2 separate regions of the Homo sapiens genome follow, and region 1 is linked to region 2. Evidence: fine-mapped expression QTL. A gene starts in region 2. The other region holds a variant in brackets. All regions are shown on one strand. Distances are from middle to middle. Region 1 overlaps LRRIQ3 (leucine rich repeats and IQ motif containing 3). Region 2 holds the start of FPGT (fucose-1-phosphate guanylyltransferase).

What was found.
Region 1: its variant is fine-mapped to the expression of FPGT in lung (GTEx, PIP 0.98).

What each region holds. Positions count from the first base shown.
Region 1 is chr1:74,012,732-74,029,810 of GRCh38, reverse strand. LRRIQ3 (leucine rich repeats and IQ motif containing 3) reads left to right here. Exons shown (of 8, transcript NM_001105659.2): 8 at 2,842-3,796. The coding sequence ends at 2,998. Among named protein-coding and RNA genes, the nearest start is that of LRRIQ3, 180 kb to the left of the region's middle. The variant A/G (reference allele first, on the strand shown) is at 8,928.
Region 2 is chr1:74,188,958-74,206,036 of GRCh38, reverse strand. FPGT (fucose-1-phosphate guanylyltransferase) reads right to left here and starts at 7,795. Exons shown (of 4, transcript NM_003838.5): 1 at 7,677-7,795; 2 at 6,206-6,373; 3 at 4,627-4,719; 4 at 1-1,646. The coding sequence starts at 7,758. The coding sequence ends at 205. It overlaps LRRIQ3 (leucine rich repeats and IQ motif containing 3), which reads left to right and starts at 7,861. Exons shown (of 8, transcript NM_001105659.2): 1 at 7,861-8,041. FPGT-TNNI3K (FPGT-TNNI3K readthrough) reads right to left here and starts at 7,795. Exons shown (of 27, transcript NM_001112808.3): 1 at 7,677-7,795; 2 at 6,206-6,373; 3 at 4,627-4,719. The coding sequence starts at 7,758. RefSeq lists a silencer at 7,858-7,957.

The sequences.
Region 1 (17,079 bases), 180 kb after region 2:
AGCCGAATTCTACCAGAGGTACAAGAAGGAGCTGGTACCATTTCTTCCGAAATTATTCCAATCAATAGAAAAAGAAGGAATCCTCCCTAACTCAATTTATGAGACCAGCATCATCCTGATGCCAAAGCCTAGCAGAGACACACACAAAAAAGAGAATTTTAGACCAATATCCCTGGTGAACATCGATGCAAAAATCCTCAATAAAATACTGGCATACCAAGTCCAGCAGTAGATCAAAAATCTTATCCACCATGATCAAGTGGGCTTCATCCCTGGGATGCAAGGCTGGTTCAACATACTCAAATCAATAAACGTAATCCAGCATATAAACAGAACCAAAGACAAAAACCACATGATTATCTCAATAGATGCAGAAAAGGCCTTTGACAAAATTCAAGAGCTGTTCATGCTAAAAACTCTCAATAAATTACCTCAAAATAAGAAGAGCTATTTATGACAAACCCACAGCCAATGTCATACTGAATGGGCAAAAACTGGAAGCATTCCCTTTGAAAACTGGCACAAGACAGGGATGCCCTCTCTCGCCACTCCTATTCAACATAGTGTTGGAAGTTCTGGCCAGGGCAAGCAGGCAGGAGAAAGAAATAAAGGGTATTCAATTAGGAAAAGAGGAAGTCAAATTGTCCCTGTTTGCAGATGACGTGATTGTATATCTAGAAAACCCCATTGTCTCAGCCCAAAATCTCCTTAAGCTGATAAGCAACTTCAGCAAAGTCTCAGGATACAAAATCAATGTGCAAAAATCTTTAAGACTTTTAAATAGTTATTTTACTTACATTTTCTTCACAGCTTATAATGTTTATCTGTAAGAGGGCTATTTTAGTACATTTATTGACTTAATTACTATCCTTAATTACATGTGCAAGATTCCTTTGCTATGATTTCTACTCTGCTACACGTCCAGACCTGACTACTCTCCTGATTTCTAGGCTTATAGTACTAGTAGCTAACTTTTAGCTACTACTAAAATGATTATTAAATGCTAGGCACTCCTTTAAGGATTTTAAATGTGTTAGTTTATTTACTTCCTACTAAACCCTGTGAGTTGAAATGTCCTCTTTATAAAGATGAAAAAAAATAATACAGAGACAACTTAAATAACCTATCTAAAATCACACCAACAATACATTTCAGAGCCAAGCAGAATGGCTTTACTACCTGTACTCTTAACTATAAGCCTTCACTTCTCTATATTCAACACCCTGGGCATCACCACATGAATAAGCAGGCTCTTAACACTAACCATTTCCAGTCAGAACTCTAATCTTTCTTCCCGTCTTGTTGCTCTACCTACATTTCTTTCTGTTGAAGGCCACTATTATCCATCCAGTAAAATTAATTATTTAATATTAGGCATTCACCTAAGAATTTTTAATGTATCAACCCACTTAGTCCTTTACTAACCCTATGAGTTAGGTTATCTCCTTAACAATGAAGAAAATGAGAGAGAAAGAACATGAATATCTTGTCTAAAATCACATCATCAATAAGCTGCAGGCTTTTTAGACTTCACCCTCTCTTTTTCTCCTCAACTTCAGATTTCTGAGTATACCTACACATAAATAAAGTATTTTATGATCTGGCCTAAATTTGTTTCTCCAGCCTTGCCTGCTGCCTTGTTCTCCTTCCCAGACTGTAAGACCCAGACAATTAGATTGATGCCAGTTCTTGGAGCATTCCAAGCTGTGCTACCCTCTCTACCTTTGTTTTGACCATGTTCGTGATATAAAAATAGTTTGAACAAAATTCTCTTCCACTTTCTGACTGGAAAATACACATCTTTCAAGATTCAGTTCAAAGGTTATTTTAACTTTAAACTTTTTTTTATCTTCCCCTCCTTGCTCTTTAGTTTATATTTACCAAGTTTTTACTCAAGTTTTTCCTCACTCTGACTTGTTACATAATGTTTTCACGATGAACCATAATATCTCATTTGTATATTTATATACATTTATTTCTCTTAACTTTTGATAAGCTTCATGTAGTTACATCATGTCATATTTATGTCTCCAGCATCTAAGGTTAGTGCCATGCATCACAATACATAATTGTTGAATAAATAAGGATGAATGAATGAAATCTCCTAAGACCTGTGACATTTCCCCGGTTTGGCAGGGTATTAGTCTACTAGGACTGCCATAACAAAATATCACAGGCTGGGTGGCTTAAACAGTAATTTATTTTCTCCCAGTTCTGGAGGTTGGAAGTCCAAGAACAAAGTGTCAGCAGGTGTGGTTTCTATTGAGCCCTCTCTCCTTGGCTTGCAGATGGCCACCTTTGCCTTGTGTCCTCCCATGGCCTTTCTTCTGTACACTCACATCTCTGCTCTTGCTTCCTCTTCTTATAAGTACACAAATTATATTGGATTAGGACCTACCCATATAATGTCATTTAGCCTTAACTACTTCTTAAAGGCCTTATCTCCAAATAGTCACATTCAAAGACACTGGGAGTTAGGACTTTGACATATGAATATGGTGGAATGCATTCAGACCATAACAGAGTCGAAGAAGTAGCTTGGGTTTAGTGAGGCTTAAGGAGATGTATTTTAGGTGATGACATAGGGTAGTTTAGATGCCTCTTTGGAAATCTAAGCCATAGTTTGTGAGAATTTTTAATTATAGCTTATAGATATCTCATAAATACTTGTCTGAGTATTGTTTAATGATATAACCAAGTTATATAAATGGAGTTGTGTCTTTCTCACTTGTATATGCCTATTTCGAAGACATCTAATTATTATCATTAATAGTCTAATAGATTGCCATGGTTTCAGTATTTAAAAGTATCTCATTCTATTACCTTTCTTTCTCCTCTTAGATCTCAAGAAATATATAAAAGACATTGTGAAGAAAAATTTGTTATGGATATGATTGCCTTTGAAAAAGCCTGTGAAAGACTTCAAGATGCTAAAACAAAAGTAGCAATTGTGAAAACAAATTTAGACTTTAAAGTTCCCAATGGACTGATAAAATGAATCAATGCCAGATCACATCCTATGATCATCTTAAATTATAGTCATTATTTTTAGTTGAAGGAATTTGAAATAATACTCTAAAGCAAGAAATACTCTACATCACAAGATGGATTTATATATAAGTCTTCTAAAAATATAAAGATTAGTTAAAATGTTTCTCTTATTGGTCATAATTTAACTTAAAGTTGACTTAGCACCTCTGAAAAATTTCTTAGATCAGATGCCTAAGGAACAATTAAACTGATTTAATGTATTGCAGACAATGTTGCAATGACATTGCTGATATTCTGTTTCATATTCTTTCTAAATATAGCAATTCATAAGCTAATTTAGGTTTTTCTGGAAACCTTAGAATAGTAATTTCTACTCCAACTGCTGACTTTTATTAAGACACTGTGTACGTTGATGACTTTTATTACCTGCTTTTATATATTTCCTGCTTATTTTGTTAAAACAATTTCTGAATTTATTTTTTAAAGTATGGTTTCAATATTTTGTCAGTGATATATGCTGTTATAAAAATTCAGAAAATATGAACTATGAAAAGTAAATTAAACATTCTTATCACCTTCCTTGAAGACTGTAAGATTTTTGTATATTTACTTTTGATGGGTTTGCCCTGTTTGGTATACATGTGAAGACAGGGAAAAGACAGAGGAGAGAAGCAAGAGACAACCCATATAATTATATATTGGAATCATAAAATATACAGAAATGGTATATATTAACCATAAGTCTGTTTAATACATACCAATGGTAGAAAATTTGAAAAATAAACTGTTAAAAAAGACAGAAAAATCCTTTGTAAAATTTGCATCCATTTTCAATAGTGATTTCATATATCTAGAAGGATGAGTGTCTCACTATAATTATGACATTGTTCACTAAATACGATGTAGCTAATGCTATTCAAAATTTCTCTTTAATACTCACTGGTTATATATGTAAGCCTTTAAAACATTATTGCTTAAAAAATTCCCTAGATAGAAAGAACCTGGCCTCCTAAATCCCTGTTTGGAGTATGATAGAGAATACCTGTTTTGTACTTTACATCATCCAAAAGAAAATTCAGTTATATTAAGGGCTTTGCAACCACATCAACTATATTAGGCCAGCATCTATGAGTGATTTAATCAGTAGAGAACTTGTTACCAAAATAGGAGTGCTACTATCACAAAAACCCAACGTATCGTACTGGCTTTGTGGGGTAGTAAGAAAACCAATATTGAAGACAGAAATATGGAGACCGAGGTCTACTCATACTATAGCCCATGTAAAGTTTTAAATGTTATGGGTTCTGGGTGTTAGTGTCCTATACTGCCTTTAACTTCATTATTCAGATCACTTATGTCTAAAAAAATTTTTTTAGTTAAATCTAGAAAGCAATATGTATATTGTTGGTTAATTTGTTTTCCTATTCCTACCCTTTCAGCCAGCACTTTTTAAAAGATTTCTTAGAATTCTGTTGCACTCTTTCATAGAGTAACTCTTACCTTCAGTGCAAATTACAGACTTAAGCAGAATGATTTTTTTTAAATTTCACACACCCACACAGACACAGATCACACATATGTACAGACACATACATAATAAAAGAAAGTCTAAAGAACAATATATTATTTCTACCTCAAATACTCTCTTTAGAAGCGCTACCATATTTCTTGATTTGTTTCTGGTATTTATCTTCTACAGATTGAGCATCCCTTATCCAAGTTGCTTGGGACCAGAATTGTTTCAGATTTCAGATTTTTTTTTAAATTCTGGAATATTTGCATATACATAATGAGGTATATTATGGATAGGACCAAAATTTAAACATGAAATTCATTTGTGTCTTATATACATTTGTACACATAGCTTGAATGTAATTTTATAAAACATTTTCAATAATTTGGTGCATGAAACAAAGTTTTGACCACATTTTTACTGTGACCCATCACATGAGGTCAGGTGTGGAATTTCCCACTTGTGTCATGTCAGGTATCAAAAAGTTTTGGACTTCGGAACATTTTGATTTCAGATTTTCAGATTAGGGATGCTTGACCTATAATAGCACGTCCCATCCCATTCAAATTAGAACATTAATGGTTCTTGAAAACCATGATTATATGACTTCTTCCTTGACTCCAGTTATTTTTCACTCCTGGCCGATACGCTCCATATCACAAATGTCACCTGCATAATTTTTAATGAAATCTAATACCCCAACACTGTGATCCATAGAAATTTGTCTAATCCTTCCAATTAGATGTATTTTACACTTTCTTCTGAGTCACTATAACAATTTAAAATATTGTATTTCAATTATAATAGCAGCATTATTTTTGAAAAGTAGAAAATGTATTTAAATTATAAAATGAAAGTAATAGCCTATGACCCACAGATAACCACTGTTAATATTTTGGGTTGTTTTTCTAGGTTTAGGGGTATATGTATGTATGCATGTTGTTCTGTTTACTGATCTCTTTTTCTTGCTTCTCACCCAACTCCTTCACCCTACCCTGTCACTTTCTGGGTCACTGACACTTAAACAATTGTTGGCTGAGCTCTTCCTGTCTTTGTCTTCATCCATAATCCTATGATAACTTTCGCACATAAAGCAAATGAGACATACGAGCACCACCCTATACATTCAAACATATACATTTTCTGACCAACAGTTTTATTGTAATTAATATATCATAATGGTTGAGTCTATACAGAGTGATTCAGCAGACTCTAGCTAGCATAAGTAGCAGCAAACACATTCATACTGGGGAAGAGATCCCATTTTTATACTGGTACAGATACAGGGTTTGAACTAGGATGCAGCAGTGGAAAGGGAGTAACCTATCTCCCTATCTTATTTTAGGCAAGTGAGGCTTCTCGGTTTTATGAGGCAAAGTATTAGTAGGCTTTGTGGGTTTTTAAGGAGGAAACTTGCTTGTCATTCACAATGGGGCTAAAGGTATCAGACATTCCCTCCCCCTACACTCAGCTACAGTGAGGGCACCTGATTGATTATTTATTCTTGCCCATGATTCTGGATCTTGAAATATTGCTAAGACAGAGGTAATTTATAAATTATTCACTGCCATTGCAGCTCAACATTCCAGGAGAGAAACTACTAGTTTCCTATGGCTGTATTACCAGAAGTTCTTCCAGATTCTTTCTGTGTTCTAACATGACTTTGTTTTGTGCCACTGGATTTGCTAAGTTCCTGCCCATACTTTAACCAGGGAATTTCTAGGCTTACTTTTCCCAGTAAGTGTCTGATTATCAATGGGAAACAGAGTTTTCACACAATAAAACTATGAAGGAGTACAGATAGAGCTCCAGCTATCCCTTGGAACATCTCCATATACTTCCATGTCTAGAGCTAAAGTTAATGGAACGCTGCCTCAACACTTTACAAGCAAGGGCTTGTATTTCTCAGGAAAGAATATTTGGGTAAGCCTACCAGGTAAAGCCTGTTATAGTGAATTGTTGGCTGAAGGCAAAAGTACCTTGAAGAGATGGTGGAGGTGGAAAGTAATGCATTTTAACTATGGCTTCATAAATATATACAGAAATAAAGATCACAACCTCTACTCATATTGCCTTCATGTTTTATCACGAATGCATTTGTATACTTTATATTTTTTCTTCCTCTCCATTTCCTCTATTCCATATAATATTAATGAAGTATCATAATAGAACTGGAGCATAATGGCCATTGCACAGTGATCCTGGGCTCCAAGCTGAATGTAGTAACTAATGAGACTTTGAGTTATTTCCCTTAGAGAAGTGGATAGAGAAAATGTATATGTTTAAATGTATGCTTTTGTAGTTGTATAAAGAATACTTATATTAGGATTGAGCCACCTTATGGGAGTAGTGAGAGGTGTTGGTATCATAAGAAAAATGTAGATGTACATTTGTCAGATTCTTTTGTTTACTTTTGCCTATAAATCATCTAAATGTTCTTTTTCTGGGGAAATACCCTTTGGCCTGTTTTGAGTTATTAACCATGTCTTAACACAAATTTAGAGGGATCAAAAAGTTTTCACTTCAACTCCTGGGATATAGAGCCAGTCGTTTGATGTTCATGTTAGCACTTCTAAAGTGATACCAGGACAAAAGACAAGAAGTCATTCCCAGTGGTGTTGAGTCCAAGAGTGGCAGCGAAAATTTCCAGTGATAGCAATGTCAAAGATGGCCATATATGTGGCATTGTCTACTGAGCTTCTGCTACCTAGCCTGCTTTGGTATCTACCCATTTTCTGAGCTTAGTCCCAGATTTCTTCATTTAGATTCATGAGTTACCAACAATCCTTCCAGTGAGTATCTTTGTTGTTCTTACTAGCAATGGTCTCAGTCGTACACCAGAATAAGAAGAATTCCAATACGTTTATTTTGTCTCAGTAAATCTCACTTTACAAATGTAAGAGATTTTTTTTTTTTTTTTTTTTTTTTTTTTTTTTTTTTTTTTGAGACAGAGTCTCACTCTGTTACCGAGGCTGGAGTGCAATGGTACAGCCTTGGTTCACTGCAACCTCCAACTTCTGTCTCCCGGATTCAAGCTATTCTCCTCCGTCCCAAGTAGCTGGGACTGCAGGCATGCACCACTATGCCCAGCTAATTTCTGGTATTTTTAGTAGAGACGGGGTTTCACTATATTGGCCAGGCTGGTCTCAAACTCCTGACCTCGTGATCCACCCACATCGGCCTCCCAAAGTGCTGGGATTACAGACATGCGCCACCGCACCCGGCTGTAAGAGATCTTTTTAAAGCGCAAAAAGTAGGCTTTTTGTCTTAATAATCTGTCAAATGGATATAATATTTATCTATCATGAAAGTTTTAAACATAAGTGAATGTGATATACCCAGAACAGTGCCTGGGCCATAGTAAGTGTTAGATAAGTGTTTGCTGTTATTATTCATTATTTTCCATGCTGGGAATTTTCCGCTTTGGGGAAAACTGGAAGGGAATGCTTCAGAGGCTGCTAATCAGAAGGCACAATAAATTGAAGTTCAGGCATGATACTTTGCCTGTACAGCCCTATGGCACTCATCTTACCCTATCTTTTGTTCCGGTCATTTGCCTATTTGTTTAATTGCCTCACTTAGGTTATAAAGTCTTTACAGTCAGAAAATGTGTTACCATCTTTCTATTGACAGCCTTCTCTAGCAGTGTCCTACACATTGCAATGGTCCTTAATAATCATTCACAGATATCTTCCTTGGCTATGATTTAGTGTGTAACAAAGTTGAAGATTTTTAAAGCCTACATTCAAAAAGAACAAAGAATCTCTTTATATATATTTTTACTTTTATTGTAAATATGTATATTGAAATGATTAAACAACTATTTGCTCTTTTCTGTAGTTTCCTATCTGCCCCACTTGTCACATTTATTGATTCCTTCTCTGCTAAATATACACTTTCTCAGGCCATTCAAATCTTACCAAAATACATAAACATCCTGTCTTGTGTTTTACATATCAATTCTATAAAATCAGACTTCCATTTCATCTTTTGACCCTGTAATGAAAACATCAACAAAATCACCAATAACCTCCTTCTTGCTAAGTCAAATCAACATCTTTTAGCCTGTATTTTGCTGGAACTTTCAGAAGCATTCACTACTATTAATTTTGCCCTCTTTGACACATCTTTTTCCATCTCAATTTCCATGACACCACATGCTGCTCTTTATATCCTTTCTTACCCTTCTGACTTTTTTTCCTGCTGTTATTTTTTCCTTAAATTTTGGTGCTATCACGTTCGTAAACTGAATGTTTGTGTCTCCCTAAAAGTTATATGTTGAAACCTAATCCCTCAAGTGATCATATTTAAAGGTGGGGCCTTTAGGAGATGATTAGGTCATAAGGGCAGAGCCCTAATGAATGGGATTAATGCTCATAAAAGAGGCCCCAGAGCATTCCCTCACCCCTTCTGCCATGTGAAG[A/G]CATAGCAAGAAGACAGCCATCTATGAACCAGGAAGCAGGTCCTCATAGACAGTGAGTCTGCCAGTGTCTTAATATTGGACTCCCAAGCCTCTAGGGATATGAGAAATAAATTTCTGTTATTCGTATGCCACCAAGTCTATGGTATTTATAGCATCCTGAACAGACTACTGCATCATTCTCCCATATATAGCTTTCTTCTCAATTTGTATGTTTCCTGGTTCACGGCATGCAAGGCCATGTTTTTTGACATTGCCCATAATCACATTGCCCATGTTCTAACAGGTCCTAACAGCATCTCTCTTGAGTTCCAGGCATATTTCTAATCATCCACTGAACATGTTCACTTGGATGACCCACATGGCATTCAAACTCAACATGCTACAGACTAAAATCATAGATCTTCCCTTTCAGAACCTATCCTGCAGGTCATCCTTAACATAATTCTCCACCACATGTCATATATAACCAACTCTTTTGCATCCTCTTATCTCATTGCTCTTAAAACTCTCCTCTGAATCTCCAATGACAATGTTTAGTTCTTGCTATTTCTTTCTTCAAATCTATTCTGCATATCCTGAAGTGGAAATCAACTCTTTGGTCATATCCCAACTGCAATAGGATAAAGTTAAAAAAAAAAAAACAAAAAAACCCTTTCCAAGTAGCAGGAAAGAAGAAAATCTTAATGGCCTTGACAGTTCCTACCTTTCCAGCTTCTCCTGCCATCAGAAGTCTCAAGCCCCATGTTCCACCTATCAGATTATTCAATTCTCTATCTCCTCTACCTCAAGTGCCCTTACGCTTTTGTCTGCTTAGAGAATTTCTGATTGATCTTCTAGAGTCAAGGGGCATGCTCTGAAAGTCTTTTATCCAGTGCTTCTGTGTATGCCTTTATTATATTATTGTATTATTATATTACTTATTTACATGGCATTACAACAAATTGATTATATGCTGTTCCACACATTTGACTGTGGATTCCCTGTATCTTAATTTGTTTATCCCCAGTGCTTAATAAAACAAGAAAGAGGGATATCTTTTAATTTCCTGTGTGTACTGTTTAGCCCTTGGAATGACATCAAGAACAAATAATACCCTTTAAATATTTTAATTGTTTATACTAAAATTTTCTGTCCTATGTAGAGGTCAAAGATTGATAAATATATCCTATAGATTGACAAAATTGAGATACGAGCATTCAGTGCCACTAATATTTCAAGAAAAAAACTCTAATCTGCTTCATTATTTGCATTAACTATCTAAACTATTCTGCTGAGGAATCAACTTTTAGGTTAAAAGCCCTATTTATAGTAATTTCAAAAACCTCCTATTTTCCCTTCTTTCCTACATTTAGAGAAAAAAAATACAAGGTTGAAAGCTGACTTTTTTTAGAATTTTACTTCTAAAAATGTGGTTCTTCAGATAAAGAAGAAGACTGATTATGAGAGTTAAATAAAGAATGGAGTACTTTATCATTGCTTTAGAAAGAGAGTTTCTAACACGCTACCTGCATGTGTAATTGTTAACCACTCTTTTCCTGGCCACCCCTTTTGCCTCCTCCTACCATCCTTCTAGCCAGAATGGATCCATATAAAAATGGCAGCTGCTCTCATGATTTACACGATAAAGTACTTTTGAGAAGAAGAAAGTCACCTGGTAATCATACAGATGTTGTTTTTTCATTTTTGTTTTTGTTTGTTCATTTGATAGGCTAACTCCAAAAACTCATCAGCATAGGTTAATATGGTTTAACTAATTTGCCTAAGAGTACACTATGTGGCCTCTGAGATGAGCTGGACCTTGTGAAAATGACAGACCTCTGCAGTAGAAATCTTTAGACAGTGGCCTTGTTCACCTGATATTGATATGTGGTAAAGGTCTCTATTACAAGGTGATCTTATTATATGAAATAAACACATCACAAAATGTGTTTTCCATGTGTGTTCATAAGTCTGTGGGTGTGTATATGTGTTTCCATGTATATGTGAATATGTAGGTGCCAGTCTCCATATGCAAATGAGAGCTATTGAAGATGACTGAAGCTCACAACATCAGTGGCTTAAACACCCAGGCAAAGGAAACATCTTTTTGGCCCAGTAACCTAAAGAGGGAAATATGCATAGTCAGTGCCCAGGCCACAAGGGGAGAAGGTTTTTTTTATTGTTTACTTCTGGAGAACTAGATAAATAACTGGTAAAACACAAAAATAAAGCCGAGTGCCAGGTAAATGTAGTAATGTAAAAGATCAGTTAGAGCTAGATCTAGGTTTTTATGGGGCCTGAAGCTTATTCAACTTGAGAGGATGCTCTTTTGGGAAAATAATACAAAATTATCAAGTTAAGTATAGGGCCTTGGAAGGGGACCATAATATGAGGGGTACTGAAGGTTAAGCCTCATTATCTTCACTGTAAATCTGCCTGTATAGTCTGAGAATCTAAAAGTCTCTTCAAGATGAAGGAAATAATTCATGAGAAAGTGGATTGTCAGAGGTGTAGAACCTTCTTTTATCTTCTCATGAATAGAGGTCATTACCAACCAGGCAGAAACTAAATGGTTATATCTGTATAATATGCAATACTTTTCAATTGATACACACAGTTCCTAGAAGTCAAGAAATGTATGATTTGATATATTATAATCCCTACTCTTCATATCAACACTTCCTCTATCATTTCAGGATAATTCCATCATGTTTAACAGCCTGACACTGTCAGACTAGGGTAACAGACCCTTTACTCTCAGTGACTTAGCCTAGTTTAGTTCATTTCTCACTGATACTCCATGTCCAGTGTGACTAAGGAAGACATCACTGTTTAATAGTGTCAGTGTCTTACAGATGGCCTGTGATGCTGCTATGGCAAAGAAAGAACATGGTAGAAAGGAGGGGGCCCAACCCTTAAATGGTTTGGCTCCAAAATGACATGTCAAGTCTGCTCAGAGTCCTTGGCCAGAACTTTACACATGGCTTCACCTAATACAAGAGCTTTTGGAAATGCTGGGGAGCAGATAAATGTTTTAGGGAGGAAGGACAGCCAAGTTCATCTCTAATACAGAGAATATTTACGGGGGCATTATCTTTGACCAGCCATCACAAGGGAACTTCATTTCAAATGCACACACACACACACACACACACACACACACACAAAGAACAGGTCCTCAAATAATATCGCTTCATTCAACAGAATTTCCTTACAAAATTGATGAGAAAAAAAAATTGATCCCTGGCTGGGGCCACTGTCTGTGGGGTGTTTGCATGTTCTGCCCATGGATTTGTGGATTTTCTCCATTTTGGTGTCCTATCACATCCCAAAACTGTGCACATTAGGTGAATTGCCTGTCTTTATGGTCTCAGTTTGAGTGAGTGTGGATGTGTGTGTGCATGCCCTTTGATGGGATAGCAGCTTGTCCAGGGTGGGTTCCCAGGATAGGCTCCAGCTACCCACTAGAATAAATGGGTTGGATAATGACTGAATGAATACAAATTATTGTCAAAAAAATTTGTAAAGTATACAATAATCATACAAATGTATAACAATAAATGACTCTGTACAAAAGCACTCAGTGAACTTGCCATATTTGTCATTGTTTTTGAACCGTGTGGTGATAGGAAGTACTCTTTAAAGTTTTCACTTTGCAAACATCTTGATTTAACCCACCACCACGATGACCACCGTCATTCACTTATTCACCAAAGTTGAGTAAATAATGATCTTACTTGTTTTAGTTAGTCTTTCTTATATGTATGTATAACTCACTGTTATTTCAATATTTAATATTAGAAGTCTTTTGTCTTTATTTAGAAGTTTGGTGATGCTTTTGTGACCAGAGATATGCCATAAGAACTTAACTCTTTTTAAAAATATATATTATTTATTTTATTATTTATTTATTTATTTATTTATTTATTTTTGAGATGGAGTTTCACTCTGTTGCCCAGGCTGGAGTGCAGTGGCTTTAACTATTATTGTGTGGGAGTCTAAGTCTCTTTGTAGGTCTCTAAGAACTTGCTTTATGAATCTGGGTGCTTCTGTATTGGGTCCATATATATTTAGGATAGTTAGCTCTTCTTGTTGCATTGATTCCTATACCATTATGTAATACCCTTCTCTGTCTCTTCTGATCATTGTTGGTTTAAAGTCTGTTTTATCAGAGACTAGGATTGCAACCCCTGCTTTTTTTTTTTTTTTTTTTTGCTTTCCATTTGTTTGGTAAATATTTCTCCCTCCCTTTATTTTGAGCCTATGTGTATCTTTGCATGTGAGATGAATCTGTTGAATACAGCACATTGATGGGTCTTGACTGTTTATCCAATTTGTGAGTCTGTGTCTTTTAATTGGAGCATTTAGCCCATTTACATTGAGGTTAATATTGTTATGTGTGCATTTGATCCTGTCATTATGATGCTAGCTGGTTCTTTCGCCCATTAGTTGATTTAGTTTCTTCACAATGTTGATGGTCTTTACAATTTGGCATGTTTTTGCAGTGGCTGGTACCAGTTGTTCCTTTCCATGTTTAGTGCTTCCTTCAGGAGCTCTTGTAAGACAGGCCTGGTGGTGACAAAATCTTTCAGCATTTGCTTGTCTATAAAGGCTTTTATTTCTCCTTCACTTATGAAGCTTAGTTTGACTGGTTATGAAATTCTGGGTTGAAAATTCTTTTCTTTAAGAACTTTGAATATTGGCTCCCACTCTCTTCTGGCTTGTAGGGTTTCTGCTGAGAGATCCACTGTTAGTCTGATAGGCTTCCTTTTGTGGGTAACCCGACTTTTCTCTCTGGCTGCCCTTAACGTTTTTTCTTTCATTTCAACCTTGGTGAATCTGATGGTTATGTGTCTTGGGGTTGCTCTTCTCAAGGAATATCTTTGTGGTGTTCTCTGTATTTCCTGAATTTGAATGTTGGCCTGCCTTGCTAGGTTGGGGAAGTTCTCCTGGATGATATCCTGAAGAGTGTTTTCCAACTTGGTTCCATTCTCCCCATCACTTTCAGGTACACCAGTCAAACGTAGATTTGGTCTTTTCACATAGTCCCATATTTCTTGGAGTCTTTGTTCATTTCTTTTCACTCTTTTTTCTCTTGTCTTTTCGCTTTATTTCATTAAGTTGATCTTCAATCACTGATATCCTTTCTTCTGCATGATTGATTCAGCTATTGAATCTTGTGTATGCTTCACTAAGTTCTCGTGCTGTGTTTTTCAGCTCCATCAGGTCATTTATGTTCATCTCTACACTTGTTATTCTAGTTAGCAATTCATCTAACTTTTTTCAAGGTTCTTAGCTTCCTTGCGTTGGGTTAGAACATGCTCCTTTACCTCGGAGGAGTTTCTTATTACCCACCTCCTGAAGCCTACTTCTGTCAATTCGCCAAACTAATTCTCCATCCAGTTTTGTTCCCTTGCTGGTGAGGAGTTGTGATCCTTTGGAGGAGAAGAGGCGTTCTGGTTTTGGAATTTTTCAGCCTTTCTGCACTGGTTTCTCCCCATCTTTGTGGTTTTATCTACCTTTGGTTTTTGATGTTGGCGACCTACAGATGGGGTCTTGGTGTTCACATCCTTTTTGTTGATGTTGATGCTATTCCTTTCTGTTTGTTAGTTTTCCTTCTAACAGTCAGGACCCTCAGCTGCAGGTCTGATGGAGTTTGCTGGACGGTCACTCCAGACCCTGTTTGCCTGGGTATCACCAGCAGAGGCTACAGAACAGCAAATATTGCTGCCTGATCCTTCCTCTGGAAGCTTAGTCCCAGAGGGACACCCATCAGGTGCCAGCCAGAGCTCTCCTGTATGAGGTGTCTGTCAGCCCCTACTGGGAGGTATCTCCCAGTCAGGCTACATGGGGGTCAGGGATCCACTTAAGGAGGCAGTCTGTCCATTATCAGAGCTCGAACACTGTGCTGGGAGAACCACTGCTCTCTTCAGAACTGTCAGGCAAGGACATTTAAGTCTGCTGAAGCTGTGCCCACAGTTGCCCCTTCTCCAAGGTGGCTCTGTCCCAGGGAGACTGGGGCTGCTGCCTTTTGTTCAGAGATGCCCTGCCCTCAGAGGTGGAATCTAGAGAGGCAGTCAGCCTTGCTGAGCTGTGGTGGGCTCTGCCCAGTTCGAATTTCCCTGTGGCTTTGTTTACACTGTGAGCATAATACTGCCTACTCAAGCCTCAGCAATGGCGGACGCCCCTCCCCCTGCCAAGCTCCAGATTTTTCAGGTCGATCTCAGACTGCTGTGCTAGCAGCGAGAATTTCAAGCCAGTGGATCTTAGCTTGCTGGGCTCTGTGGGCGTGTGACCCATGGTATAGTCTCTCACGGCTTCCCTTGGCTAAGAAAGGGAAATCCCCCAACCCCTTGTGCTTCCTGGGTGAGGCAATGCCCTGCCCTGCTTTGGCTTGCCCTCCATGGACTGCACTCACTGTCAAACCAGTCCCAATGAGATGAACCAGGTACCTCAGCTGGAAATGCAGAAGTCACCCAGCTTCTGTGTCGATCTTGCTGGGAGCTGCAGACCGGAGGTGTTCCTATTCGGCCATCTTGCCAGAAATCCTCTCCATAACTCTGTTCTAGTATCAATTAACCTTTGGTAAAATTGATTTTATTACACTGTTTTCCTTAAAGTCACAGTTTCTAAGAATCTATTGACAGTGTTAAGTGAGGACTTCATGTATGTATGTATATATATATGTGTGTGTGTGTACGTGTGTGTACATATATATGTGTAAATTTAAGATCAGTGCCATCTACATTTAGAAATTTGAATAGTGATTGGCATATATGAGAACTTAAGAATGTTTGTTGAATAAGTGAAAGATTAATGAGTGAATAGAGAATATTCATGATGACTGTAATTCTTGGAAGATGAAAAAAGAAGGCATGTGTTCCTAAAGTTCCAGCAAGAAAGCCCCAGTACTATAATATAATTCTGCCTTTTTTCCCCATATCTCTTTTCAGGTCTGGCCTGCTTGTGGCTCTAACTAACTAAAATTTCAAAAGTATTATATTCTGTCAAGTGAACCAAATTTAGCAAATAATTTGAACTCAGGATTCTTACTAGGACTGTTATTTTTAAACAAACAAAAGAATTAACCTTGAGAAGTTAAATGTAAAAAAAAAATAATGTTAGGCCAAGGGAGAAATTGAGGTGAACTACAGATCTACATGGCACTTGACTCACCAGGAGCTGAGAGGGAAAGCTAAGCAAACAGAAACTAAAAAATTAGTATTTACATTTTCTTGGCTGCAACCACCTAAAGTTTTCTTTAGAAAAGGGAATTATATAATTCTAATGAGTAAGTTTCCATAATTATTTTATTAAGAATATTTGTTTGGGTGGTATACAGATATATTCACTGCTTTAGCTGCTTTTAAAATATATTGAAAGCCATTATTCTTAGCAAACTAATGTAGGAACAGAAAACCAAATACTGCATGTTCTCACTAATAAGTGGAAGCTAAAAGATGAGAACTCATGGACACAAGGAAGGGAACTACAGTCACTGGAACCTATTGGAGGGTGAAGGGTGGAAGTAGGGAGAGGATCAGGAAAAATGACTAATGGGTCCTAGGCGTAATACCTGAGTGATGAAATAATCTGTACAACAAACCCCCATGACATGAGTTTACCTATGTAATAAACTTGCACATGTACCCCTGAACTTAAAATAAAAGTTAAAATAAATAAATAAATAACATTTTTCTCATTGTGTATTTTTTCATTTGTAATGTTATCAACACTATTTCTTTGTCATGCAAATGTATGTTATCAACATTTAAAATGAATTTATTTCTACTAGAATACACTTCATAATGGTGAGTTGTATAATGTAGCTTATTGCATTACAACACTGTTTGAGGAACTTTTCATCTTTTATCTCTCACTAGCTGACATCTGGCACTGTCCTAAACTGTCGTGCATGAGTTTTTTCCCCTCCATTTTCACTACTGCTTTCCAAAGAATTGCAAGTCCAGCAGAGTTCACCTGATTTTGCCTTTCTTTTCCTCCTATAAATTACAGGCAATATCTTTGTTCTTAAGTACTGGCTTTCTTTTGGAAAGACTAGCTTGCACCCTTATTTCATGGTCTGTGAGCCTATCACCACATAAGAGCCATGGGGAACCATTTCCACTAATGGACTTTGTACTCCCCAGTGCAGTTAATTTCACCCTTGTGG
Region 2 (17,079 bases):
CAAAATAGTATCTCTTTTCTCAACTTAGTCTTGGAATATTTTTCATCAAAATGACTTATATGTACTTTTGCACTATTAATATTATGCTACAACAATTATGTTAATACAGTTTTCATTAACTGAGTTCAGTGAAACAGCCTACAAAAAATACCTATCTCTGGAATGTTACTCAAAAAGGCAAAGTGTACAATATTTAAAATATCTCTACATCAAACTGCTTTTTAAACTGATTTCTAGAAAAATTTGTTCCCTGTAAGTTATCATATCTTCTACATCTTTGTAGATAAGCATTTCTTCAATGGACAGCAACTTATAGCTATTCAGGCTGAATGCTGACTTGTTCTTAACAGCATTTAACATCTTTAGGGATGTTATAACTGAGTCACTCAAAGAAGAACAAACTGGGAAAATGCGTGCAGTCCACAAACTCAGACATGTCTTGTTACCAGAGAACAGTTCCTCTGTAACTTTAAGATTCCAAACATCTAAGCATGACAGGAAACAGACTCCAAAGAATTGAAGTAACTTTATATCTGACAATGTTTTCACACTCTTTTTCAAGTTGTCTTGCACTCCAAATGCCATAGTTGCATACTTTAAGCATCTATTCATCTTTAAGCTTAAGGAACATACAAAAGAATGTGCGGGGAGGGCAGCTTTTGTTAGGATGTAAGAACCACTAATAATGCAGTTTTCCCCAACTGAAACATCAGGCCCCAATCTGGAATACTCCACAACTGAGCCAGGTGCCACAGAACATCTTGAATCCAGTATGCTTTGAATGATACAGGATGTTTTGCCAGAGCATTCTGGTATATCTGGAAAGATACTAAAAGTTATGGACTGTAAGCCGAGCTCTGACTTTAAACTGTTATCTGAGGTAAAGTAAAACAAATATTCTTCGGTTGTTCCAATGTGATAAAATTTGGAGTTATTAAGAACAACAACATTTAGTGATGTTCCTTTAAGAAGATGAAATATTCTCTGCCTCATTTCTACCAACTCTGACTCTTCTTTAATGACATTTGATGTGTTTCTGGTGTACTCCACAGTTGCTCCAGGTCCCAAAGCCTGCAGAAAGTCACCATAGGCATCTATTTCACAGCTCAGTGTGCCTATTTTTTCATAAAAAGCAAGTAACATTTTTGCTGATTTATGATCCATATAAAATAGGCTATCTGTGTAGACATAGTCAGAGTCTAATTTAAGATCGGCAATGTCACCCCCAGCAAAGTCCTGTTGACAAAAATTTCCAGGTCTACACACAGCATTAAACTGATACATCTTTTCTATGCTGGGCTTATGAAGGAAACGATGGCAAGACCTGTATTCAAGGTCTCTATGTTTTAAATCATCAAAAGGATCTAAGACAAATACTCCATGTGTGGTACCTATCGTCAAACTAGAAGGATGAGCTAAAGCAGTAAAGCCAGGTTTGTCAAACCTAATAAACTCAAATTCTCCAATACTATAAAGTTCAATATCATCTGCACAGGTAACCAGAATTCCAGGATTCATATTTAAGGGGAAATCAATGTACATGGCTAGTTTTAATTCTAGCATCTGATAAATGGGGTTACCAAGAGGTAAAGCAGTGAAAATTTTTCCCAGAGCACTTGCATTTGGAAGTCGTTGACTGTAGCCACCTATAAAATTAAAACGAAATAACCATTTAAAAATGCAGTATTATTTATAAAATTTTCAAAACCCCAGGGTTTTATAACCCATAAGTTACAAATCAAAATATATTTAACGATATTTAATATATGCCACTTGTTACTGCAAATCAGGAAAGAATAATGAAATCCAAATTAAAAATTCGAAGAGAAATTTTCTTGTTGCCATTTGATATAAGACAATTTTAAAAACTGTAGGTCAGGAAAAAATTTAAATATACTGTAGAATCTGTGAAATGTTTTGAATTACATGTATAACAAATAAGAAGGACCACGGCCCAAAACATGATGTTGCATCTACATTTGTTTTTTTTTTTTTGAGATGAAGTCTTACTGTCACCCAGGCTGGAGTGCAGTGACGTGCGATCTTGGCTCACCACAACCTCCGTGTCCCAGGTTCAAGCGATTCTCCTGCCTCAGCCTCCCGAGTAGCTGGGATTACAGGCACCTGCCACCACGCCTGGCTAATTTTTGTATTTTTAGTAGAGACGAAGTTTCACCATGTTGGCCAGGCTGGTCTCAAACTCCTGACCTCAGGTGATTCACCCAACTCGGCCTCCCAAAGTGCTGGGATTACAGGCGTGAGCCACCACACCCAGCCTGTATCTACATTTTAAACAACAAATTTCAACCATGTTTAGACTTCTAATTAAGAATCTACTTCACAGAAGGCCAGGCGCGGTGGCTCAAGCCTGTAATACCAACACTTTGGGAGGCCGAGGCAGGCAGATCACGAGGTCAGGAGATCCAGACCATCCTGGCTAACACGGTGAAACCCCATCTCTACTAAAAATACAAAAAATTAGCTGGGCGTGGTGGCGGGCGCCTGTGGTCCCAGCTACTCTGGAGGCTGAGGCAGGAAAATGGCGTGAACCCGGGAGGCGAAGCTTGCAGCAGTGAGCGGAGATCGTGCCACTGCACTCCAGCCTGGGCGACAGAGCCAGACTCCATCTCAAAAAAAAAAAAAAATCTACTTCACAGAAAATAAAAGTTATAGAAAACTAATATACTAATGCTAAAATACTTGCTTCTTTACAACATTTCGCTCAATTATGGACAGCATATACATAGGTTGTCCCATAAGATCATAATGGAACTGAAAAATTCCTATCACCTAGTGATGTTGGAGCCATTGTAAAGTCCTAGCACGATGCACCACTCAAGTGGTGATGCTGGTATAAACAAACCTGCTGTGCTGCCAGTTTACTAAACTACAGAACATACAATTATGTATATAGTATATAATAATTGGTAATAAATGACTATTTTACTGGTTTATGTATTTACTATACTATACTTTTCATTGTTATTTTAGAATAAATTCATATGATACATACAAAAAAAAGTTAAGCATAAAATGGCCTCAGGCAGGTCCTTCAGGAGGTCTTTCAGAAGGCAGCATTGTTATCATAGGAGATGACAGCTCCTGAACTTTAGTAGGACTATAGAGGTAGTGATACTGATGATCCTGACCCAGTGTAGGCCTAAGCTAATATGTTTGTGTCTTCATTTCTAACCAAAATATTTAAAAAGTAAAAATAAAAACAACAAAATAAACCCTAACAATATAAAGAAAATATTTTTGTACAGCTGTACAGTGTTTGTGTTTTAAGCTGAATGTTATTACAAGAGAGTCAAAAAAATTAAGAAGTTTATAAAGTAAAAATGTTATAGTAAGCTAAGGTTAATTTATTACTGAAGATCAATAATACCTGTAAAGCACTTGGCAGCACACAGTACATTGTTCAACAAAAGAGAGCTAATAAGTTTCTGTTTTTTTCTTTTTTCAAAGAGCAGCCAATAGTCAAGTTTAGCACTAAGAATTATCTATTTCCAAAAAATAAAAATAAAAAAATTATCTAACTATGCATTTCCTGGTATCTAATTTAATTTTTACTAAACTGATAATAATTATTTTCTTAAATAAAATTGTAAATTAGATTGTTTTACACATTTTTAGGCTTCAAACCAGAACTTGGATGCTTTACTTTGACATCATCTTTACAAAGAATCATTGTTTTGTATGTAAATCATAAGAATGAAAAAGTGCCTTGGAAGCCATGTAGATGAATAATTCTAAAATACCTGTCCCTGGACTGGTGTCAGTTCATGACAGTTTTCATTAGCCCCTTAACATACATAGAAAAACAACAAAGGTTTTCATGTAACCAAAATTTTCACACAACTAAATGTATTCAATTTAAAAAGCTATTCTTCATTCTGAGACCATGTCCTTCCTACTTTTCTGTTTTAAAATGTCTTATTTTGTGTGTGTGATTTCTCTTTTATATATTTACTTGTCCACTCTGTATCTTGTCACATTTTCCTTTTATTTTTAAGCATTGTGGCCTCTGGCTATCAATAATCACACAAAAATGCAAGATAAAAAGTACTGGCAAAAGTCTAGTAATGACAGTGTTAAACCACCCTTCCCTCAAAGCAAGAATCCCCATTAAGGGAGAAAGAGTGTTAGGAAAAATAGCTAATGCATGCTGGCTTAATACCTAGGTGATGGGTTGACAGGTGCAGCAACCAACCATGGCACACGTTTACCTATGTAACAAACCTGCACATGGACCCTGGAACTTAAAATACAAATTAAAATTAAAAGAAAAATCCCCATTAAAGTATTCCCGAGAACTATTCATATTTGAATGAGTTGTCTTAGGAAAATAATTTTCTATATACATACCCAAAACAAAACAATATTCATAAAAGACTGACGATATACGTGATCTACAATTTTACGAGTAAAATTTGTGAAAATCACTATACTACTTACAACCTAAAAAAAGTCATGAAAATCATAAAATATTTGTTTTCAAAGCAGAATAACTTCAAAGATTCTTTTAAAAAAGAAGGAAAGTGTTTGCAAGAAAGAAAAAAGTCTCTAAAGTATTAAAGGTGGAAGACTAAAAAGAAAATGTAAATTAGTAAAGTATAACATTACCAGAGTGAATTAATAAGATGGTAAAAGAATTCCATTTATCTCCATATAGCTTTTCCAAACATTGAAGGGCACAAAGTGTTGATCCTCCATTTCCTTAAAAACAAAGTTAAAAAAGCACAATTTATTTAATAGAAACCTACTAAAACTTTGTCATGACAGTAAATTTAGGTGTTATATAACCTTAAGGATTTGCCTTTCAGGAATAAGTAAATAGATGGACATCAAAGGTATTGGCAATAGAACAAAATTAAAAACATCTCATAGCAAACAACCAATCAATAAATTAGCAATGAAACCCAGACAACAACCCTCAGTAATAAATGATGAGGTAATATTCTCCCCAAAATAGTAATTATAAGAAAGAAGAATCAATTACACAATCTGTAACACTAGAAGACTGATAAATATAAACATTCATACAGAGTTACAAATCACAAAGCCCATTTAAATAATTCTCCCAAATGACACAATCAAAAACACAAGTTAGAGTTCCTTTCGAAAAAAGATTTTTAGAACTTGGATTCCCAAAAAAAAATCTTAAATATAACTACCACACTAGTTATCTTGGGCCAGTTACTTAACTCTTGAGTACCTCAGATTCTCATCTATGGAAATAATATCACGCCTGTAATCCCAGCACTTTGGGAGGCCGAGGCAGGTGGATCACGAGGTCAGGAGATACAGACCGTCCTGGCTAACATGGTGAAACCCCGTCTCTACTAAAAAATACAAAAACAAAATTAGCCAGGCTGGTGGCAGTCACCTGTAGTCCCAGCTACTCGGGAGGCTGAGGCAGGAGAATGGCCTGAACCTGGGAGGCGGAGCTTGGAGTGAGCTAAGATCGCACCACTGCACTCCAGCCTGGGCAACAGAGCAAGACTCCTTCTCAAAAAAAAAAAAAAAAAAAAAAAAAGAAATAATAACAGTACTGACCTCATAGTTGTAAGGATTAAAATAATGTTGGCTAATTAGAATAATGCTAATGTCATATTAATGTCATATACAGATATCTTATCTCTGGTATCAGGGGGCTTCAACTTTAAGTATCACATAGAAAAGAGCATTCAGAAAAACAGCATTTATTTCTATTTGCAATGGACGGTCAAAGGGCAAAGTTGACCTAAACTAGGGTTTTCAAATATATGTATTATATTTAAGCCATGTGACAGTGTTCTTTTGCATTCTGCATTATGTCCCTAAGAGGTCAAGAGTATTTTTTCCCACTAATTGCTTTCTTCATGTAAATTGCTGGAGGAACTCTGGAGTGGAGAGGACCTCAAGGGTTCTACTGATAAGGTCCAAAGGAGTATTCCTATCTGAATAGTGTGAATTTCATTAAAACTAATAAAATTTTCTTTTAAGTAACATTCTGGAAGTTTTTCAAGGTAAGTCATAATGGGTAAGAACAGTTGCTATTCCTTTTATCTTTCTAAAAAAAGTCAATTTATGTTCAAATTTTAAAGTTTGTAAAGCTGTGGGTAGAGATATGCAGCTTATACACTGTAAGTCACAGAAACCTTTTCTTCAATGATTATTCTGCTTAGGACCTATATTATAAAACTGACCATAAAGCGCGTACCAATTTTGGCTCCAGCAGGATCCACAAAAACGTGATATTGAACTCCAAGGGGTAACTCCTTTCTTTTCAGCTTTTCTGACAGCTGTTGGTTGTAAGCAAGTTCCTGTTTTTCATCAGCCGCTGTTATTGCAACTATGTCCCAGAATTCTCCACGTGCTACAAGTTTGCCTATTTGGAAAAAGCAAGGAAATGAAAACAAAAATTATCAGAATTTTCTAGTTGCCACAGGTTTGCCTATTGAGAAAGATGATAAAGAAGGTAATATCCATTATCATCTTCCAAAATGTATCTTTGGCTTTTGAAAGTTAGGGAATAATTAGTGGTGCATTAATACGATTCAAAATAGTTATAATGAAGACTGTTCACAAGTTCCTTTTTTTTCTTTTAGATCACTCCCTCCTTTTATGGTTTGCAATCCAATTTAATTATAAATTCTGAATGACATAATGTTTCTTGATTAAGAGAGCGACTTTTAACTTGCCAAAGACTATTGCCTCAATTCTTCAATAAGAAGAGGAGATAAACATAAACAAATCTCCAGCTTTGCAAATCAATTCTTATGTATCACGGACACTTGGTGTTAGGTGACTAAGAAAGACACAACCCAAAGATCCCTTCCCTCAATGTTGCTGTTTATAAATGTGGGTACTTTATTTTCTATTACTTTAAGATGAACCATGCAAACTTACATAGGCTGTTAGAATATAACATAAAATTCTGGATAACAGAAGGTCCCAACTCTCTGATGACATCTTTAAAAGACAGTGTGCACTTTTAGTAGACAGTTGGAATCTCTTTATTGATAAACAAAATGATTTAGCATTTTAATTAGTTAACAAACAGAACTTGTCAGCTAGAATCTAATAGTCCTGAAAGTTTTACTGTTATCCAAGAATTAGTCCCAGTATTTTTTAAGCAGTCACTGCAACACAAATATAATCACTTTTATTAGACAGGTGTACAGGGATTAAGTGTCATAGCCAATTTTTTGATAACAAATTTCTTCCTTTTAATTTTTAATCCATAATTCCTCCATGTTCTGTTACTCCCTCAACAAACGGTTACATTACAGAAGTAGATGAACGTAATGTAAAGCGTGAAGTAGATAGGGGGCTGGCATCTACTCATAAAGTTCAAAATACTGTGCTTCGTATCTTTTAGATTTATTTAAAGCAACTTTTATTAATGAGCTAATCAATGCATAACTTCACTAGTAAGATTTTCTTCTTCTTCCTCCGCCCTCATTTTTAATATCTATACTACTAAGAATAAAGTAAGCAACAAGCATGTCAAGCAGGGACAGTGAAAAGAATAAAAAACTCAAAAGGATTATTAGCTAGCTACTCCTGGGGAGCGTCATAGGCCTACAGATGAGAAGTAAACGGGAAGTGACAGTCCAGCAAACCTCCTGGCACGTAAAAGCACCCTCCCTCTGCATTGCCCAGGAGAACTCCGGTGCCTTCTCTGGTACCTCTTAGCTCGGAAAACCTCCGCAATTTTCGCTGGGTGGCTTCTCGCAGCGATACTTCCGGAGGGTCCCTAGCAGCTGCCATAGCCCCACCTTCCCTGAGACCGCGCCGCACAGCACGCATGCGCCCTGGGGTGCGCCTCCGCCCGGTTGTTTCTGACCCGCCCCCTCCGTGCGTCGCCCACGTAACCACGCCCCCGGAGCGCCTTGGCTGGCGCCCGGAAAACCATGATGTGGAGAACTTGGATGTTGTCTTGTTTCTCTAGCAACGGTCTCAGGAGCAGATGGCCGCCCAGCGATTTGTCTGACTGTGTTGGGGCTGGGCCACTTGTCTCCAACTCATAAGGGCTTGCAGCCCAGTTGACCCGGTGAGTGGTTCAGTTTGGGTGACAAAATTGTTAGAACCGACCCGCTAAGGATAAGGCGAAACTACATTCTAGCTTCCCAGCTTTCACATCAAAGGCGGTTCGTCCTAACTGGTGGTTTGTTTCAGCCTGGAGCAGTTCCCCAGGATAGCCTGATAGAAGATCTCCGCCATCTCTCCTTTCCCCCGCCACCCCGGGCCATCTGCCCCCAACCCTGGGTCATGATACATACACAGTCTGAATATTTAAAATCTCTGCTCTTTCTAGGAACCTTAAGTTTGTGGTTCCTAGAGAGTGAGCCACCCCACCCCTCTGTTTTTTCTTAGTAGGCTACACACGACAGCCTCTCAAATAGTGTCTTTGAAAGTTGTATAAAATTCAGTCCGCAACCAGGCTCCAAATATTTTTGGTATTTTGGTTTCTTCTCTGGCATTCTTTTGTATATGCAGATTAATCTAGAATGTTCAATAACACTCTTAGGAATAAGTCAGCCTTTTTAGGTGTTTTTTTGGGTAGCTATATAAAGGTGTTCCTGTTATAGAACACGAGGTTTCTTGGTTTTACAGACCACTTCATCTTTACACAGAAGAAAACTGAATCAGAGAATAGTGAGTTAGTCAAGGTATCACAATTAGTAAGTAATAAAAGATTTAAGAAATATATTTCAATCCCAAACCCAGAACTTGTGGTATTTCACCATACCGTTTGATTTTTTGAGACGATTTCTCTGTATCAACGTCTTCATTAGGTACGTAGACATTCAGGGCACCATAAACTCTTGTCATAAATTTACTTAGTTTTTCTTCTCAGACTTGTTATACAATCGTGTTCTAATAGTGGAAACATTTGGATAAAATGGCAGATTAGATTACTCTTTCATAGTTTTACATTTAAAACTTCATTAATTAAAAAAACAGTATCTTATTGAAGAACATTTAGAAAATACAGAGACTTGAGTGAAAGTAACCAAAGGAGAAAGTAGCGAGAGAAGGTCAGAGAGAGAACAAAGGGCCATAGGAAGAATTTTGGTTTTTACTCTTGAGGGAAACAAAGCCATTGCAGGGTTTTGAAGTGACTTGGCTTATGTTTAAAGAGATCACTCGGAGATAGGAGAATAGATTATAATGGGGGATGAGGCAATGATAGAAGCAGGGAGACTTCTTTGGAGGTTACTGCAATATTGCAGGTGAGAGCTGGTGAAGGCTTGACCAGGATGGTAGCAGTGGGAATGGTGAGAAGTTGGTCAGATTCTGGATATATTTTTAAGACAAAAACAATAAAATGTGCTGATGGAATTAATGGGTGTGGACTGTAAGAGAAAAAGAGGAGTCAAAATGACTGCCTTGGGATGGATTGGCCATCAATTAAGATGGGTAAGTTTCCGACTGAGGAAGGTTTTTGGGGTAATAGGGTCCAGAATTTGATTTTGGACATGTGGAATAAAGAGACATGTGTATGCAGTGAATATGTAATGGAAGTTTGTGTGTGTATGTGTCTGTATGCATTATACATACGAGTCTAGAATTCAGGAGAGAGGTCTGGGCTAGAGATACAATTTTGGGAATTGTCAGCAAGAAGATAGAATTAATTTTAACTGTGGAACTAAGTGAGGTCCCAAGGGAGTGAAGGTCAGCAGAGCCTATATGTTTGGGGTCTGTATATTCTAATAAGGTGAAATAAAGAAGGAAGAAGTAACCAAATAAAAAATCCAGTGGTAACAATTGTGAGGAGACAAACAGAGTGATGTGTTAGATTCTATCATACAGAATATTAAATAGAGTATTTATTGGATCTAGGACGGTATCATACAGAATATTAGAGTATTTCTTGGATCTGGGAAGGATGGCCATAGAAATTGGATATTATTTTTTCTCAATATGACTATATCATGCAATCAAAATTTGCTGGAAATAAATATACCATATTATCAGCTATGGCTTCTGTTTTCTTTCTTTTCTCAAATTTTCATTAATATTAATTTTTAGTAAAAAAAAAATTAAAAAATACTATATATATGAGTAGGAGTAAATTTCCGTGGCAGTTGATTGTTGGAGGCAAAAAAAGTTTAGGGATTTTATTTAAGTTCATATTCACTATAATAAAACAGTGTGATATGACTGTTTAACATCTTAAGCTACCAGAGTATTATTATACTAGAGAATTCGCCACAGAGTTTTTCCAGGTATTTATCAGAATGTCATTTTACCAGAGTAAAATATATCAATCCAGCCAAGCTGTAAGCCCATTAATTCTGCACAAATCAAACACACAGGAAATAATCTGTTTAGTTTTGGATTCCACATTTTTAAAAAGATGTTGAACATACTAGACTATAATAAATTGAAAAATTATATTCTGTGGAGGCATTTGGGCTTTTTATTTCCAGGAGGAGAGTAGAGAGTATCTGAAGAGCTGCCATAAGGAAGAATGAGATAGATTTTTTAAAGCAACTTTATTGAGGTACAGGTTTAGAACATTTTCATCCCCCCATTAAAATGTCTTCCAACCCATTTACAGTTAATGCCAGTTACACTGTTTTTTTATTACTACAGGCATATAACTATGACTGTTGTGTGGAAATTATAGAGAAGAATGTTTTAATTTTCCCCCCTTCTTTATATGAGGAAGTTGAAGCCAAATGAATAGGGTCCTGGATTATATACTGTGGAGCTCGTAGTGCATGCTGTGGTCAGGCCAAGCTAGGGCTGTACTTGTTTCCAGTCCTTGTGCTTCATGGCTCTGTTTAACCACTGTTTCCTCCTGTTACCCTTCCTGACATGCAACGAAAGCAAAAATTGTCTTTTTGCAGTTTGTTTTATTTCGATTTATTTACTCAGCTAGCCTGTTCTCAATTTATTTCTTAAATATTTTTTTTCTCACTATGCCCTGTTGGAGGAACCCTCACACCCCTCAACTTTCTGTAGTGCAGAGAAACATTCTCCCACCCCTGAACTTTTATTATACTTCCTCCCTTAGTATTTTTGTAGATTTTTTTTCCAAATGGAGTTCCCCAGTAGTGTAATCATAATCTACTTTGTCCAAATACCAGGATGAGGTTTCGGGGAGGGGAAAGGGATAGGGAGAGGGCAAGTGGTTGAAGAATATAAATTAGTAGAGTCAAGAATTAAATTTTAATTAATGTAATACAATATTTATGACACTTAAGAAAAAGGTATTAATGGCTTAATTTTAGGAGATCCAAAATCTGTTCTATGAAAGCTAACCAAGGAATGTTTTGGGCTAGAAGAAATATTTGTCGTGCTAATTTCTTTATTAAGAGGTTGTGATTTCTGTGCAGATTATTTTCTGTGAATGTTTTTATTAATTTTGGCTGTTTAATATCCATCTTCTGGCTCACCACCTTTTAGTTTTTTCAGGCTTATGCTTTTGCAGTCTCCAAGTTGGAATAAAAATAAAAATTGAAAAATGAGGTCTCACAAAAGCTTTTTTTCTGAACAGAAGTATATAACCTTCTAAAATTCAAAAAGCCAATATATTTAAAGAAAAAAAGTTATAATTACAAATGAATTCTGATTCCTTGTTCTGAATGACTTTTCATGTCATTTGAAAACATATAGAATATGCCATGAAAATATAATGTTTTGTGCTACCAAGGTTATTTATATTAAGTTATAAATGCACTATATTCTGTGTTCATTTTCCAGGACACATGTACTAGTCTGACTGTTCTACTAGACTCTCCCCTTCTTAACTTTTAAAATATATTTTTTCTGTGATATAAAATTATGGCAATTCTTTTATATTTTTAGAGACAGGATTTTTATTTTTAGAGACAACCTTTCACCCATGCTGGAGTGCAATGGCAGATCATAGCTCACTCCTGGACTCAAGCATTCTCTTGCCTTGGCCTCTCAAAGTTCTGGGATTATGCAGGCATGAGTCACTGCACCGGCCCATGGCAATTCTTTATTAAAACAGTCGTTACTTAACAAATCTGTTATCCAAATAAAAAGTATTTAAAAAATATAATTTCTTTATTTTGTTAATAGAGATGCACTTAATATGTTGCAGACATTCTAAACTAAAAATAGTTTGTAATCACAATATGTATAAAATGTTACTGATTAGAATCCTTACAATTAGATTTTCTAAAAACTAAGACTTTTTATTCTTTTTTTATGATTTGATTTTATATGCAGATAACAGCTGTTGTGATAATTCTGGAGTCTAGTATTCAGATTTCCATCTAATATTATAGTTCATGCTTATAAAATAAATTACTTTCATGTAGACCATCAAATCTAATATTTTAATATATTACTTAAAATAATGATGATCTGTCTTCCAAGTATCTGAAAGCTTCAGTGAATAAGTGTTAAGTCTAAAGGTAATTAGTACACTCAGCAAAGACTTTCTTTGAAAACTTTTTTCCCAATATTTATTATGTATCACATTTGGAAAAGAAATAAATATACAAAATAAATAGTTTTTACTTCTTAATATTTAATTTAAATATTCATGAGTTATAACCTTGTATAGTTACACTTAATGTGTTTGCCATCAAAGTTGGGTGTGAAGATGAGATATAACTGATGTGCATTTTATTTTATAGACATGGTTTATATAGTGCAATTAAAATGTAGGATAATTTTTAAATTGGTACTTTAGTTGATACAAACTAAGGAAAGGTTTGCTGATAATGGTACTGATTTATTTTTAACTGCAGAATTTCTTTGAAACTGTGGTTGGAGACTTGATACGTTCTGTAACGTGTTGCTATACTTAATTTGCCTTTGAACATTATATTATTATTTGAACTTGATAATTTACAAATGTGTATATACATTTCACAAAATAGTTATAAAATTATCAAAGTCTAAAATGAATGAAAGTGACTAGATTCCTCCTCTATGTGCATATTTTAAATTTGCAACAAGTGGTAAAGGGCTTCCAACTTGGTAGAGGAGGATATATCAATTGTAGTGGTTTTTAGCTTCCCTTGGTAGGCAGTAGAATCATATGGGCCCATAGCTGCAATGATATGATTCAGGGGACATGCTCTGGGGCCTGGTCATTTGAGTTATTCCAGTTTTCAGATGTACAACATAAATAAATAATGAGAAACAAAATTGAAATGCTGCATGTGGTAGTTAAAACAAAATATGAAAAATCCCCACTTTTCCATAATGATTGGAAAGTTCGACAGAATATGTAGCTGAATAATATAAATAACTGACACATACGTTATATTCTGAATATAGAATACTAGTTTTTTCTGTAATTTATTACTCATGTTAATCTTTCCTTTTAATAGCAATAACCAGTATTATTATGTTCTGTTTTGTAATTTTTAAAAATATTAAGGTTGTTTATATACTGGCAAATACATATTGTTGGCAGAGGTGAATATTAATAGAGAAAATGAATGTAAATTAATATAGTGTATGGGGAAGACTGCTTATAAGACTAAATTATTTTAGTGTTCATATCACATCAACTAAAAAGAAACCAGTTGAGAAGATTTTAAAATATTGAATACATATGAAACAAAAATCAGTAAAGAGGAACTGAAAAATATGTTTTTAGACACATATTTCGGATAAGATTTGGTATTTGAGAGGAATACAAGAATTGGGAGAGAGGATGACAGGTAAGGGCTGAAAAGAAACTACCTGTTGGGTGCTATGCTTACTTCTTGGGTGACAAATTCATTCATACTCCAAATTGCAGCATTATGCAATATACTTTTGTAACAAACCTGCACATGTACTCCCTGATTCTAAAATAAAAGTTGGAAAAAAATTAACTCTGAATGTCCTAACAGATAAGGAAAGGATACATTTTGGAGTGAGATTTATTATTGCATGGTAAAAGTAACCACAGTGAGTATATGGAAAGACCTCCCCACTCTTCACTAAACATGTGAACTACAGGTTAATGGTTAGATGCTTTACATTGTAGAAGAACCTACATATAATCTGAGTAGAGTATTTATTTTTTATAGAGACTATAGATCTTTATGGACTCTTCTGGAATGAGATGATGATAAAATATGCCCCTCCTCCCAGAATATTTGAGAATATAATTAAGAATTACAATTTTCTTGAAAAATATGAGAAAAATTTTCTCATATTTACTTTGGATTAAATTTGCTGCTCTTTTTCAAGTTCTAGAAATGGCAGCTTATATGATTCATTTTAGATCTTTGCTCTTTTCTAATATATGTATTCAGTGCTATGAATTTCCTTTTAAGCACTGCTTGTACTATATCCCACAAATTTTGCTAAATTTTACATTTTATTTTTATTAGTTCAAAATATCTTTAAATTTTTATTGACCTATGTGTTACTTAGAAGTGTGTTTATAAATCTCCCAAGTATTTTGGAATTTTCCAGCTGTTTGCCTGTTATTGATATCTAGTTTAATTCCACTGTGGTCTGAGAGAAGATGTTGCATGGCTTCTGTTCTTTTGAATTTGATAAGGCATGTTTTATGGCCCAGAATGTGGTCTGTCTTGGTGAGTGAATGCTCCATGTGAGCTTGAAAAGAATGTATATTCTGTTGTTGTTGGATGAATTAAAATAAAACTAGTTGCTATTATTATTTTGGACAAATTATTCAACTAAGAATAAGAAAAATAAGAGATTTTTATTTTATCCTCACTTGTTCCTTTCCCAACACTCTTTCTTAACATAGATATGAGTATCTGACCTATATCATTTCTCTTCTCTCAGAACTTCTTTTAACATTTCTTACAAGGCAGGCCTACCAACAACAAATTACTTCAATATTTATCTAACAGAATTTATTTCTTTTTCACTTTTAAAGAATAATTTTGCACCATACAGTGTCCTTGATATAGTTTTTGAAGCATATATTTTATCTCGAATTGTTAATGGAACTAGGCATTCAATTAATTTTGTAGAGCTTACTGTATTAGTCTGTTTTCATGCTGCTGATAAAGACACACTCAACACTGGGTAATTTATAAAGAAAAAGAGGTTTAGTGGACTCACAGTTCCATGTGGCTGGGGAGGCCTCAGCATCATGACAGAAGGTGGAAGGCATATCTTACATGGCGGCAGACAAGAGAGAATGAGAACCAAGTGAAAGGGGTTTCCCCTTATAAATTCTAGGTCAGTGAGTTTTTTTTCTCTTAACACTTCAAATATTTCACTCCACTATCTTCTGCCTGCATGGTTTCTGATAAATCAAATGTCGTTATTATCTGTGATCCTTTATAAGTAAGATTTTTTAAAAATTCTTTGGCTTTTTCCAAGATTTTTTTTTTACCTTTGATTTTCTGAAGTTTGTATATTAATTATCTAGGTGTGAGGTTGTTTTTTTTTTATTTTCTTACATTTATCCTACATGATGTTCTCTGTTTCTTGAATCTGTGGCTTAGTGTCCGATGTTAGAGTAAATTGTCATTCATTATTGTTTTAAATACTGCTTTTATTCCTTTCTATTTTTCCTTTTTTGGCATTTTTATTACACGTATGTTACACATTTAGAAGTCCCACACTTCTGGAATGTTATGTTTTTTTTCAGTCTTTTTTTTTCTCTTTGGTTTTTAGTTTTGAATGTTTTTGTTGACATATCCTCAAAGTCAGAGATTCTTTTATCAGTCATGTCCCATCTACTAATGAGCCCTTCAAAGGTATTCTTCATTTCTGTTATAATGTTTTTGGTCTCTACCATTTCTTTTTTATTCTTTCTTAGAATATCTATCTCTCTACCTACATTATCCATTTGTTCTTGTATGTTGCCTACTTTTTCTATTAGAGCCATTAGCATATTAATCCTAGTTGTTTTCAATTCCCAGTCTGATATTTCCAACATCCCTGACATCTGTGTGTCTGTTCCTGATGAGTTTCTGTACTGCCTGTCTGTTGCTCCAATTTTGTGGTCAGCAGTTTACCCTATGACCTTACTTTGTGTAGCTAAGAAAAGTTGTTGATTTTTAGTTTGTTCAGCTTTCTAATGTGTTGTTAGGATGGAGTGACTACTCCAAGCTCCTTACATGCCATACTGGAAACTGCAGGTCCCTTGATACACTTTTTGAAGCATATATTTTATCTTGAATTGTTAATGGAACTAGGCATTCAATTAATTTTGTAGTGCTTACTGTATTAGTCTGTTTTCATGCTGCTGATAAAGACACACTCAACACCGGGTAATTTATAAAGAAAAAGAGGCTCAGTGGACTCACAGTTCCATGTGGCTGGGGAGGCCTCAGAATCGTGGTAGAAGGTGGAAGTCACATCTTACATGGCAGCAGACAAGAGAGAATGAGAACAAAGAAAAAGGGGTTTCCCCTTATAAAACCATCAGCTCTCATGAGACTTATTCACTACCACAAGAACGGTATGGAGAAAACTGCCACCATCATTCAATTATCTCCCACTGGGTCTCTCCCACAGCAAGTGGAAATTATGGGAGCTACAATTAAGATGAGATTTGGGTGGGGACACAGCCCAACCATATCATTAAGTGCCAAACACTGTTCTAAACCCTTTAGGTTGACTTATTTCGTCCTCATAAAAATTCTATGGGCTGTTATTATTATCTTCTTTTTACAGATAAGGAAACTGAGGCACAGCATACATAATTTACTTGAGATCACCAATCTCAGAACAACTTACATTTCATTTCCTTTTTCTGTACTTAGTTTATAGGGTGCTTGAAAAATAAAATGAACTTGTCGTAACCAGTAGAATGTGGCTGAGGAGACGCTTCAGTTGAACCTAAGCCTTAGGAAGTTTGGACAGGTTCTGCTTTTATGCTTTGGGAGCCCTTAAGCATGTAGAAAGTCTGGCTACCCTATTTCAGACACACATGGATAGATGACATGGAGAGGACAGGTCAACATAGAGAGGTCCTGAGACAGTATGGAAAGAAAGACTGGTTCATCTCAGCATTCCAGCTGAACCTAACCTTCCAGCAGTTCACTGGAGGAGTGAACTAACTGATGCTTCAGCCACTGTCAGTTGGAGAACTGCTTACTTCAACTGAGTCAACACACAGAATCTTCAGAGTAACAAAATGATGGTTATTTTAAGCCAATAAATTTTGGAGTG